Homo sapiens: one gene and its partners. The protein of the gene in region 3 interacts with the protein of the main gene of each other region in a pairwise test. Each region holds a gene or a part of one and is shown on either strand. Other genes may lie near its edges. The genes, in order: CD160, CEP76 and THRA.

What was found.
Region 1: the proteins of THRA (region 3) and CD160 interact in binary tests that used the Homo sapiens proteins (3 or more experiments, as listed by UniProt).
Region 2: the proteins of THRA (region 3) and CEP76 interact in binary tests that used the Homo sapiens proteins (3 or more experiments, as listed by UniProt).

What each region holds. Positions count from the first base shown.
Region 1 is NC_000001.11:145,729,407-145,733,157, forward strand, and holds part of CD160 (CD160 antigen precursor), read left to right. Parts: intron 1-1,337; coding exon 1,338-1,664; intron 1,665-3,751.
Region 2 is NC_000018.10:12,688,976-12,692,726, reverse strand, and holds part of CEP76 (centrosomal protein of 76 kDa), read left to right. Parts: intron 1-1,239; coding exon 1,240-1,368; intron 1,369-3,751. UniProt on the Homo sapiens protein: Centrosomal protein involved in regulation of centriole duplication. Required to limit centriole duplication to once per cell cycle by preventing centriole reduplication.
Region 3 is NC_000017.11:40,065,826-40,069,576, reverse strand, and holds part of THRA (thyroid hormone receptor alpha), read right to left. Parts: intron 1-3,751.

The DNA of each region.
Region 1 (3,751 bases), on a different chromosome or scaffold from region 3:
GGATGAGTTTTCAGCAGAGAGCTGGATTTAACCGAGGTTGGGGTTTTGCGAGGATCCATCACAGTAGGAGTAAAGCTAAGGGAGCTGAGGGTGGATATAAGGGAGAGATTATAATAATGGACTACAAAATATAAACTACAGAAGGAAGTGAAGTTTGAGGAGAGTGAGGGGCAGTACAAAGTTGGCAGGGCCAATGCATTGCAAAATTAGGTCAGAGACACCCATCGAGCCAAAACATCCTGGGTTAACCCAACTATTTTCTCCACTTCTGTATCCAGGTTACAGATTACTTACAGGGAAAATCAAGTGGGCAGACTGGCACCATCAGAGTCATGGTCTTTGGATATCAATGGTCCCTCAATAATTAGTCTGTTTCTCCAGTCCATTCTCACTCCATTTCCACACAGTGGCTGTTTTTAATCATCTCTGGTATTTCTGTGGTCTCTCTCATCCTATATTTCTTAGAAAAACTTTTACTCATCCTTCAAGTCAGCTCCAGCACTAACTTCACTGTGAAGTTTCCCTGATGCTTCAGACTCAGGAATCTCTAAGATTCCTCAATTATAATAACTGTGGAATTAAATTGTAACTTTTTGCTAATTTGTTTTTACATTAGGCTTTAAACTCTGAGAGTGGCCAGGCACAGTGGTTCATGCCTGTAATCCCAGCAGTTTGGGAGGCAGAGGCAGGAGGGTTGCTTGATGCCTAGAGTTCAAGACTAGCCTGGACAACATAGTGAGAATCTGTCTCTACAAAATAAAAAATTAGCCAGGCATAGTGGTGCATACCTGTAGTGTTAGCTATTCGGAAGGCGGAAGCAGGAGGATTGCTTGAGCCCAGGAGTTCAAAGGTGCAGTGAGTTACGATTGTGCCACTGCCCTCCAGCCTGGGTGACACAGCAAGACCTTGTTTTAAAAAAAAATTTTTTAAATTAAAAATCCCCGGTCATCTAATGGTTAGGGGAAAAAAAAGTTCTGACAGTAGGGCTCACGTCCTAGTCCTCATAGCCCCAGCAGGGCTTGGCAGAGTGAATACCTAAACGTATTTGTTAAGTGGAGGAACAAATAAACCTATGAATTAATGGATGCTTTGAGCATATTATTTAGTCCCTTAATTTTCATTTTCCAGATGAATAAACTACTGCCCAAGGAGTTAGGTAACTTGCTTACAGTCACACAGCCATCGATAGAGCTGGAATTTGTATTTCCTGTCTGCCAGCACTACTGCCAGGTTCTGCTTCAGTCCTTCCTTGAAGACTTCTAGTGATAAGGAGCAGTTACGGTGAAATTCACAGAATGCTACCTGACCTCTGGGTAATTCTTCCCTTTCCATTCCAGGATGCATTAACATCACCAGCTCAGCTTCCCAGGAAGGAACGCGACTAAACTTAATCTGTACTGTATGGCATAAGAAAGAAGAGGCTGAGGGGTTTGTAGTGTTTTTGTGCAAGGACAGGTCTGGAGACTGTTCTCCTGAGACCAGTTTAAAACAGCTGAGACTTAAAAGGGATCCTGGGATAGATGGTGTTGGTGAAATATCATCTCAGTTGATGTTCACCATAAGCCAAGTCACACCGTTGCACAGTGGGACCTACCAGTGTTGTGCCAGAAGCCAGAAGTCAGGTATCCGCCTTCAGGGCCATTTTTTCTCCATTCTATTCACAGGTGAGTGCTCAAATACTCCTAATGCCACCAGGTGGGACAGTGAGCAGGGTTGACAGTGGAGATGTAACCAGATAGTTCAGGTCCTGGAAAGGCAGTTTCCTTCTTCCTCAATCCTTTTCCAACATCCCCATTGGCAGATGCTGCCTTTCTTCAAAGCGCACACACAAACATAATCTCATTTTGTCTTTAATTTTAGAACTCTTACTTGGGGTGGCCATTGCATTTTTACTGACAGGGAGATGGTGACACAGGGGTTGAAGAGACTTGTCCAGTGCTACTCACTGGTGAAAGTAAAAACAGATAGAAATTAGGCTTCCTGGCCAGGCATGGTGGCTCATGCCTGTAATCCCAGCATTTTGGGAGGCTGAGGTAGGCAGATCACCCGAGGTCAGGAGTTAAAGATCAGCCTAGCCAACATGGAGAAACCCTGTCTCTACTAAAAATACAAAATTAGCCGGGTGTGGTGGCGCATGCCTGTAATCCCAGCTACTCAGGAGGCTAAGGCAAGAGAATCGCTTGAACCTGGGAGGCGGAGGTTGCAGTGAGCCGAGATTGTGCCATTGCACTCTATCTTGGGCAACTAGAGCGAAACTGTGTCTCAAAAAAATAAAAAACAAGAAAAGAAAAGAAAGAAATTAGGCCTCCTGATTCCCAATTCAGAACTCTCCCAGAAATGTGGCTATATTTCTAAATTCAGGCAGACAACGAGATTAGGTTTGAGATAATATGGGTGTCTGTCTTAAGGAGCATTTAGTTGGAGGAAACAGAAACCAATTCAAAGTACCATAGATTAAAGGAGGAAAAAATAAAAAAGTACAGCTGGCCCTCATGAGTTCTAGCTCCTGGAATCAGAAACTAGAAAGGGGACAGGACGCAAAACAGTTACCGTTTCAAACTGTGAGGCAGCAAGGCCTCTGGCTTCTGCATCTGTCTTTCACTCTATGCATGCTCCCCCTGCTCCATTACTACTTTGGCATATCCTAAATATGGCCACTCCAGCCCCAGCTTTAAGTGGCTTCCTTAAGTCAAATTGTGCCCAACAGAAAGTGTCTCTCTGTGTAACTATATTCCTAGACAATAGAGCAAGCCTTCAAAATTCTGTGGGAAAAAAAAAATTTACCTAGAATTATATATTCAGCCAAACTATAAACCAAATGTAAGGAAAGAAAAAAGACACTATCATGAGATGCAATGACTCAAAAAAATTTGCCTTCCATGTGATCTTTTCAAAGAAGCTACCAGAGGATGTGCTTCAGTAAAACAAGAAAGTGAATCCATAAAGGGGATAAAATGACATACAGGAAACAAGGAGTCTAACAAGGAAGTTCTAGGCTGGACACAGTGGCTCATGCCAGCACTTTTGGAGGCCAAGGTGGGAGGATCACTTGAGCCCAGGAGTTAGAGATAAGCCTGGGCAACACAGGGAGACACCATCTCTAGTGGAAAAGAAAAAAAAAAGGAAATTCAAGAATTAAAAAAGGGCAGTTAGTCCAGAAGAGAGCAAGAGAAAGACGACTCTGGAAGGGAGATCTCTAGGAGGTAAAAATGGAATCGACATATCATCTTTCTAAAGGCCCATTAAAGACCCAATAAAAAGATTAAAGAAATGGATATGGAAAACTCTGCCAGTAAAAAAATAAAATCAGGCTCTAGAAAAAACTAAATTTTACAAAAGAAACATAGCGCACAACTTGATTTTGCAAAAAATAACACAGAATCCAAATTATGTAAACATGACTAATTTAAATAAAATTTGTGGTACAATTATTTTTAGAAGAATGCAGAGAAGGAAAATGGGTGAAAGTATAATCCTCATCTACTATATTCTAGCACATCTTCATCTACTGTAGCAGAAAGCCAATAGAAAATGTCTAAATTTTATCACTAGGAAGCAGCAATATGAGCATATTATTTAGGAATATAATAAGACATCTCGAAGAGTTGACAGTGGTTGTCTCAGACAATAAGCCTAGGAGGACAAAAGGGCACTGCTATTATTCTCTATGAACTTTTACAACTATCTTACTTCTCCATGAACTTACAACTATCTTACTTTTTTTTTTCTTTTTCTTTGATTTTTTGAGACA
Region 2 (3,751 bases), on a different chromosome or scaffold from region 3:
CAGCTTGCTCTCAAGGAGTTTAGATTCTAGTGCAGGAGAAACAATAAGTCAGCAAACAAAATAATCAGATAGTAGAAGGTGTTTTATGGAGAATTATTACAGGTGATATGATACAGTGGTTATTGGGTGGCTAATTATAGGTCGAGTGACTAAGGTAGGGAAAGAGTCTGAACAACAGGAAGTAACCAGCCATGCAAAGATTGGGGCTGAGCTTCCAGCACTGGGAACAGCCTAGAACAAAAGCCCCTATGGAGGACCGAAAGCCCTGTGTGGCTAGAGCGTAGTGGGTTGGGGAGAGAGGAGAAAATGAGATAGTCGGGCCAGAGTTCATAGGCCAGGGCAGGTATTTTGCAATGTGATGGAGAATGAAGTGTTTTAACAAGAGAATGACAGTATGTTTTTTTTTTTTTTGAGATAGAGTCTCACTCTATCGCCCAGGGTGGAGCACGGTGGCATGAACTCGGCTCACTGCAACCTCTGCCTCCCGGGTTCAAGCAATTCTCCTGCCTCAGCCTCCCGAGTAGCTGGGATTACAGGCATGTACCACCATCCCCAGCTAGTTTTTGTATTTTTAGTTGAGATGGGGTTTCACCATGTTGGCCAGGCTGGTCTCGAACCCCTGACCTCAAATGATCCACCTGCCTTGGCCTCCCAAAATGTTGTGATTACAGGCGTGAGCCACCATGCCCGGCTTGTATGATTTACTATTTAAAAATTTCTGGGCCAGGCGCGGTAATCCCAGCACTTTGGGAGGCCAAGGCGGGCGGATCATGAGCTCAGGAGTTCAAGACTAGCTTGACCAATGTGGTGAAACCCTGTCTCTACTAAAAATACAAAAAAAAATTTAGCTGAGTGTGGTGGCACGTGCCTGTAGTCCCAGCTACTCAGGAGGCTGAGGCAGGAGAATTGCTTGAACATGGGAGGCAGAGGTTGCAGTGAGCTGAGATCTTGCCACTGCACTCCAGCCTGGGCGACAGAGCAAGACTGCATCCTCCACAACCAAAAAAAAAAAAAAAATTCTGTCTTTGAGGAAAAAAAGGTGACTTATGATTATTGTATGGAGATGGGATTGTACTAGGGGTAAGTGTAGAAATAGGGAAGTCAGGAGGCTCTTATAGAAGATGATGATGACTCAGATTAGGGTGGTAATGATGTAGAGAAGTAGATAAATTTGCTACATATTTTGTAGTAATTAAAGATAATGAATAGAAATTGAAAAATATTTTTTTCAATTTCAAGCTTGCTTTGGAACGTCAGAAAACTGCAGAGAAAGAGCGATTATTTCTTGTATATGCTAAGCAGTGGTGGAGAGAATATTTGCAAATTCGACCCTCACACAACTCACGACTGGTTAAGATTTTTGCACAGGTTTGTAAATTATATTAGAATAATTTTATGCCTGTATTTGAGATTTACTGTTATGTGTGTAAATTTCATTTAATATTTATTTGTAAAATGTATTCCAAAAAATAAAAGTGTATTTGTAAAATAAAATGCTGATTTTGTAATATTCTCTTTCACTGCATAGTGAGTGGCAAGATCAATCTATGTCTTATTTTACTTTCAATTTCAGTTATTGTGGGTTTTTGAAAAATCACCTTTCTCAGGTTGAATCAATTATTGTGTTTTAAACCCTTTCTGAATATATTTGATTTAAAGTAGATGAAAATCCATTTTGTTTAACTTGGAATGTGTATTTGCTTGATACTTAGTGCTAAATAATTAACCATTTGGACACTTTGCAGGTTATATGTAAATCCAGCTCTTGTGTGCAGAACGGGGGGGGGCTCTGGGCATATATATATTTTTTGTTAGGGTTTTAAAAAAAATTGTATATAACCACGACTTCTAAGCCAGTGACCAGTAATGTTTAACTGAAGCATTTCAACTATATATCTCTGCCTCCATTTTTCCTGAGTCCTAAACCCATTTTCTCTCTTTAACAGACCAATATAAAATATATGGTCAGGTCAGCTAGGCGCGGTGGCTCACGCCTGTAATCCCAGCACTTGGGGAGGCCGAGGTGGGTGGATCAAGAGGTCAGGAGATCGAGACCATCCTGGCTAACACGGTGAAACCCCGTTTCTACTAAAAACACAAAAAATTAGCCGGGCGTGATGGCGGGCTCCTATAGTCGCAGCTACTCGGGAGGCTGAGGCAGGAGAATGGCGTGAACCCGGGAGGCGGAGCTTGCAGTGAGCCGAGATCGCACCACTGCAGTCCGGCCTGGGCAACACAGCAAGACTCCGTCTCAAAAAAAAAAACAACAAAAAATGTGGTCAGGTTCACGTATTTTTTGTAACTCCTAAGGAACAGTTCAAATATTTTGTATATATTCAGCCTCATACAGATGCTTTCATATAAGTATAGTGTAGTATATTATTTTAAGTTAAGTTTCTCAAATCCTGTACATTCATCCAGCTTTACCCTACTTTCCCTAGATTTTGGAACAGGCTAAAAGTGGTTTAGTGTCCAGATGGGGAGCTTGGGAATGAGAGGTTGACTAGAGGTGGGAATAAGGGAAATGGCTTCTGACTTTCTGATAGCGTTGTTTATATATTGAATGACTGGTTGGCAAGGTAACAACATTATCAGGACAAAGGCAAGGAGAAACCAATCAAAATGTAACTGGCTTCCTGGCCGGGCGCGGTGGCTCACGCCTGTAATCCCAGCACTTGGGGAGGCCGAGGCAGGTGGATCCTCTGAGGTCAGGGGTTTGAGACCAGCCTGGCCAACATGGCGAAACCTTGTCTCTACTAAAAATACAAAAATTAGCCAGGCTTGGTGGCAGGCACCTATAATCCCAGTTAGTCAGGAGGCTGAGGCAGGAGAATTGCTTAACCCGGGAGGCGGAGGTTGCAGTGAGCGAAGATCACGCCATTGCACTCCAGCCTGGGCAACAGAGTGAGACTCTGTCTCAAAACAATAACAACGACAAAAAATATACATATATATATATATAAACTGGCTCCCTGCTGTCTATATAGTCTGAGGCATTTATTCATTGCCACGTGGAATTAGGAACTAGAGAGGACTCAGGATGGAGTGAGGCAGTGAATCAGAGAAATGGCAGGATCAAAGAGGAGGAAGAAGTTGAAATGCACTAAGGAAGTCAAGGAAGTGGGATTTTCTTTTAGGAAATATTACTTAAACGACTTCCTCTCTCAGAATTCATTTTAAGATTTGAACCATAGAACGTAATTTAGTCTCATAGTAACCATATAAGATTGTCAAGTGGCCAGGCATTGGCTCTTTTTGTAAACAGTATGAAGGTTAGAGAAGTGAACAGTCTTTTCAAGGCCAAACAGCAACTCAGTCATGGCAAAGTCTGTGTCAAATTGGAGTTTCAACTGGTGCCTTTTTGGTTTATGCCACCTCTTTCCATATACATAGAGTAAATAAAATGCTGATTTAATTTAGATTCCTCAGAACTGTTTCTTGCTGCTTCCTGTATTTGACTAGTTCTGAAATTAAACAACAACAGTGTAAAACAGTCAATCTAATTATAAAAACAATAGTTATAAATCAAAACGTTAATATACATATCCAGGCCAAAAAAATTTCTAATGTATCCAGCACTGAAAGTAAAGTAAAGAACTTTTTTTTGTTGTTGTTGTGAGACAGAGTCTCAGTCACCCAGGGTTGAGTGCAGTGGTGCGATCTTGGCTCACTGCAACCTCCACCTCCCAGATTCAAGTGATTCTCCTGCCTCAGCCTCCCAAGTAGCTGGGACTACAGGCACGTGCCACCA
Region 3 (3,751 bases):
GGAGCTGGGAGCTGGGGCAGCTGAATGCTGGAGGCATGAATGTCACGGGGCCAAGGCACTTGCTGCAGATGGCACCATGGGCACAAGGCTTGGGGTCCTCCCTCCTCACTCCCTCATCTAAGGCAGTAGAAGAAGTTGCCTGCAAGCCCTGAAGAGCATGGCCTAGGAGGGGAGGGAATGGTGGAGGGGGAAAGAAAGGGAGGGATGTTCTCCCAGGCACCCCAGAGGCTGGAGCTAGCCCCTAACCAAGCAGAACTGGCAGAGGCAGAGAGAGAGAGACAGAGACAGAGACAGAGAGACAGGGACAGAAAGGGAGGAGGGAGGGAATAGGAAGGAGGGAGGAAGGGGGAGGGAAGAGAGAAAGATTGAGAGTGTGTGTGTGAGAGAGAGAGAGGGAGGGAGAGAAGGAGGGAGAGACAGAGAGGGGGAGGGGGAGAGAGAGAGGGAGAGGGAAGAGGAAGGGAGGGAGGGAGAGAGAGAGGGAGGGAGAGAGGGAGGGAGAGAGCGCGCGCGTGAATGCAGCTGAGTCTCCGGCACACACACGGACACGTGCAGACACACACACTCACCCCGCATGCGCAGAGCCACAGGGCTCTGGGTACCGTTCCAGGAGATATTCAGAGCCCTCCCCAGCCCACACATGCACAAAAACACTCTCACATGGATGCGTGCACAACACACCCACTCACTGATGTGTACAAAAATGCCGAAAGACACCAAAGCCTCGGTTCCCCTGTTTCCCCACCCCCATGCCTGGTAAAAGAGAAAAAGAAACAGGCAGCTGGGGCTCTGGGAGCCAAGAGCCGATCTCTTCTTTAGAAGAGGAAAAGAGGAGGAGGAGGAGGTGGGCCAGGGGCTTGGTCCAATCATTCTGCTCTTGGCCACTGCTGAGGGGCATGGCTGAGGCTTTGGTATCAACCTTTAATGCCCACCCCCAAAACAGCGAAGCAAGGATAGTATTTCCTGGGCACCAGTAACACCCATCTTGCTTCCCTTGTCTACCCAGCAAACTTCTGACCCTCCCTCTGGACCACCTCACGCAATGGCATACCGGAGGGAGGTCCCTATGACCCCAGCTTTGGCCTGCCAAGTGACACCAAGGTGGAACCACATGTGCCCCCACCACACACCAGCCCCAGATACTTCAGTGAGAGACTGAGAACTGTCTCTGGTTCCAGGCAGCATGTGTATGCCCCACCCTGGCATGTGCCAGGCCCTGGGAAAAAAGGAGAATCCACAGGCATTGCTCACCATGCCAGGATGCAACATGGATTGAACACAGGGGTCATCCCACCTTGTGTTATTTGCCCTCAACCTGAGTGAGACAGGAACCATTGTCTCTAGATAATGAAAACCCAGGCCCAAAGTCATACGACTAGTGAATGTCAACAGCCAGGCCTCCCAACTCCCAGCCAGTGATCTTCCCACCACGGTCATGCTTGCCTCCCTCCCCAAGAGACACAACAGTTCTCCAAAGTCCCCTAGACACCTTTGCAGCCATGAGAACTAGAGTTGGGTTTTTTGTTTTGTTTTCTGTCTGTTTTGAGAGGATGTGTGTGTGGGGGGTCTCACTCTGTTGTTCAGGCTAGAGTGCAGTGGCACAATCACAGCTCACCGCAGCCTCGACCTTCCAGGCTTAAGCGATCCTCCGGCCTCAGCCTCCCAAGTAGCTGGTAACACAGGCATGCGCCACCACACCTGGCTAACTTTTTAAAGTTGTTTTTAGAGATGGGGTCTCACTATGTTGACCAGGCTGATCATGAACTACTGGCCTCAAGTGATCCTCCCGCCTTGGCCTCCCAAAATATTGAGATTACAGGCATGAGCCACTGTGCCCAGCCGAGAACTAGAGTTGAGATTGGTTCCCACTCCAAAGGCTTCCCGTCACCCCTACAGGGTATCCTCCCATTGTCCTTCCTTCACCTTGAGGGGCAGGGCTAAATAAAAGGGGTTTGGAGAGGGGATCCTGATCACCAGACTCACAAAGGCAAAGAGGCAACCCAGGACAGATGCTGGATCTCAAAGTGCTGTGCCCACCACACTGGTCATTACTCAGTGCTTCAGTTTCTCTCTGCCACCACCTTTCACACTAAGTACCACTCCATGGAGGGCAGGGGAATCTGGTGCCTATCAGCCAGAGCTGGGTCCTGGTTGACCAATGCTGGGCTCCCAGGAGGGAGGAAGGGCACTGCCTCCTCTTTGAGCCCACACATAAGAGAGGGGACGGCTTTCCTTGTTCTCTCTCTCCCACCCCCAGAGCTCAGACCCTGAACAGAGATGCAGTGATGCCCAAAGATTTATGCAGGTGCCCCTAGCTGGTGGGGTGTGTCCCAGGCTGAGGGGCCAAGGGCTCCTTGTAAGCTGAAGGGCGAGGGTCAAAGGAGGGTGGGGCAGAGGGGCCTGCCTTGGGCTCTTTCCCATACACTCATTCCAGGCTGCAAAAATTTGTCTGGGAGGAAAAGATTACATGACGGTGAGAAGGCTGGAAATTGGAGACCCACTGCCCCAGGCCCCAGTCTCACTGATGTCTAGGAGACCCAATTCTCCACGAAGCTTCTCTAAGAAATCTGGGAGACCCCAGGCCCACAGCTTCCTTCACCCATCACAACCGCTCACATATACAGTTTGTTATGAACTAGGCACTTTTAAAAACATTTTTCCTCAAAAAAGCTAAATGAGGTAGATATGATCATCCCCAATTTACAGATGAGGCAACGGGGAAGTTAAATCGCTTGCTCAAAGTCACACATCCAGCAAGTGACAGAGCTGGGATTCAGACCTAGGCAGTCCAGGTCAATCATGGCCGTCATGATCATCACCATCATCTCTGTTCTTAGCTGTGATGGTATATCACCTGCTTGATAGATAATGCCTTGTTCTTTTTTGTTTTTCTTTTTTTTTTTTTTTTTTTTTGAGACGGAGTCTCGCTCTGTCACCCAGTCTGTAGTGCAGTGGTACAATCTCAGCTCACTGCAACCTCCACCTCCTGGGTTCAAGCGATTCTCCTGCCTCAGCCTCCTGAGTAGCTGGGATTACAGGACCCCGCCACCACACCCAGCTAAGTTTTGTATTTTTAGTAGAGATGGGGTTTCACCATCTTGGTCAGACTGGTCTTGAACTCCTGACCTCAGGTGATCTGCCTGCCTCCGCCTCCCAGTGTGCTAGGATTACGGGTGTGAGCCACTGTGCCCGGCCCAATGCCTTGTTCTTTCATCCAGCTATGTGTTCCCTGAGACCAAGCCTCAGTCTTTCCCCTCTGTAGCTGCCCTGTGGGTTCTCTGCCAAGTGCCTCCACCTCCAAATAGTCCAAGGCTAGAGGGGAGCATAGCGAGAAGTGCTTGGTGCCCCCGGGCTCGATGTCTCCTGCCTGAGTTCCCCCTCCTCAAATTCCCTCTCCAGAAGAGGTACCCCTTCTAGGCTGGAACCTGCACTCACGGGTGGGAGGGCCTCGCTTAGTACATACTTAGTCTAGGCAGCTGTGCCCTCAGAACCAGGCCCTGAGGCTGGGCAAAAAGGACACAGCTGTTGGGCATCTCTGAGGTGGGCCTCAGCTGCCAGGGGTGTGGAGAAAGGCCATTGTGAGCCCTGCAGTGGACCCAACTCAGCAGGGTCCTGCCAGCTCCCGCCACTGCCCATGGGGGCGGTTCTTTTCCAGCTTGGGCCAGTGTGGGGGGAGCCTCTTCATGGCTTGTTTAAGAGCTGCTAGCTGGCTGCAGCCTGCACCCTGAGGGTGCCCACAGAACTGGTGTCT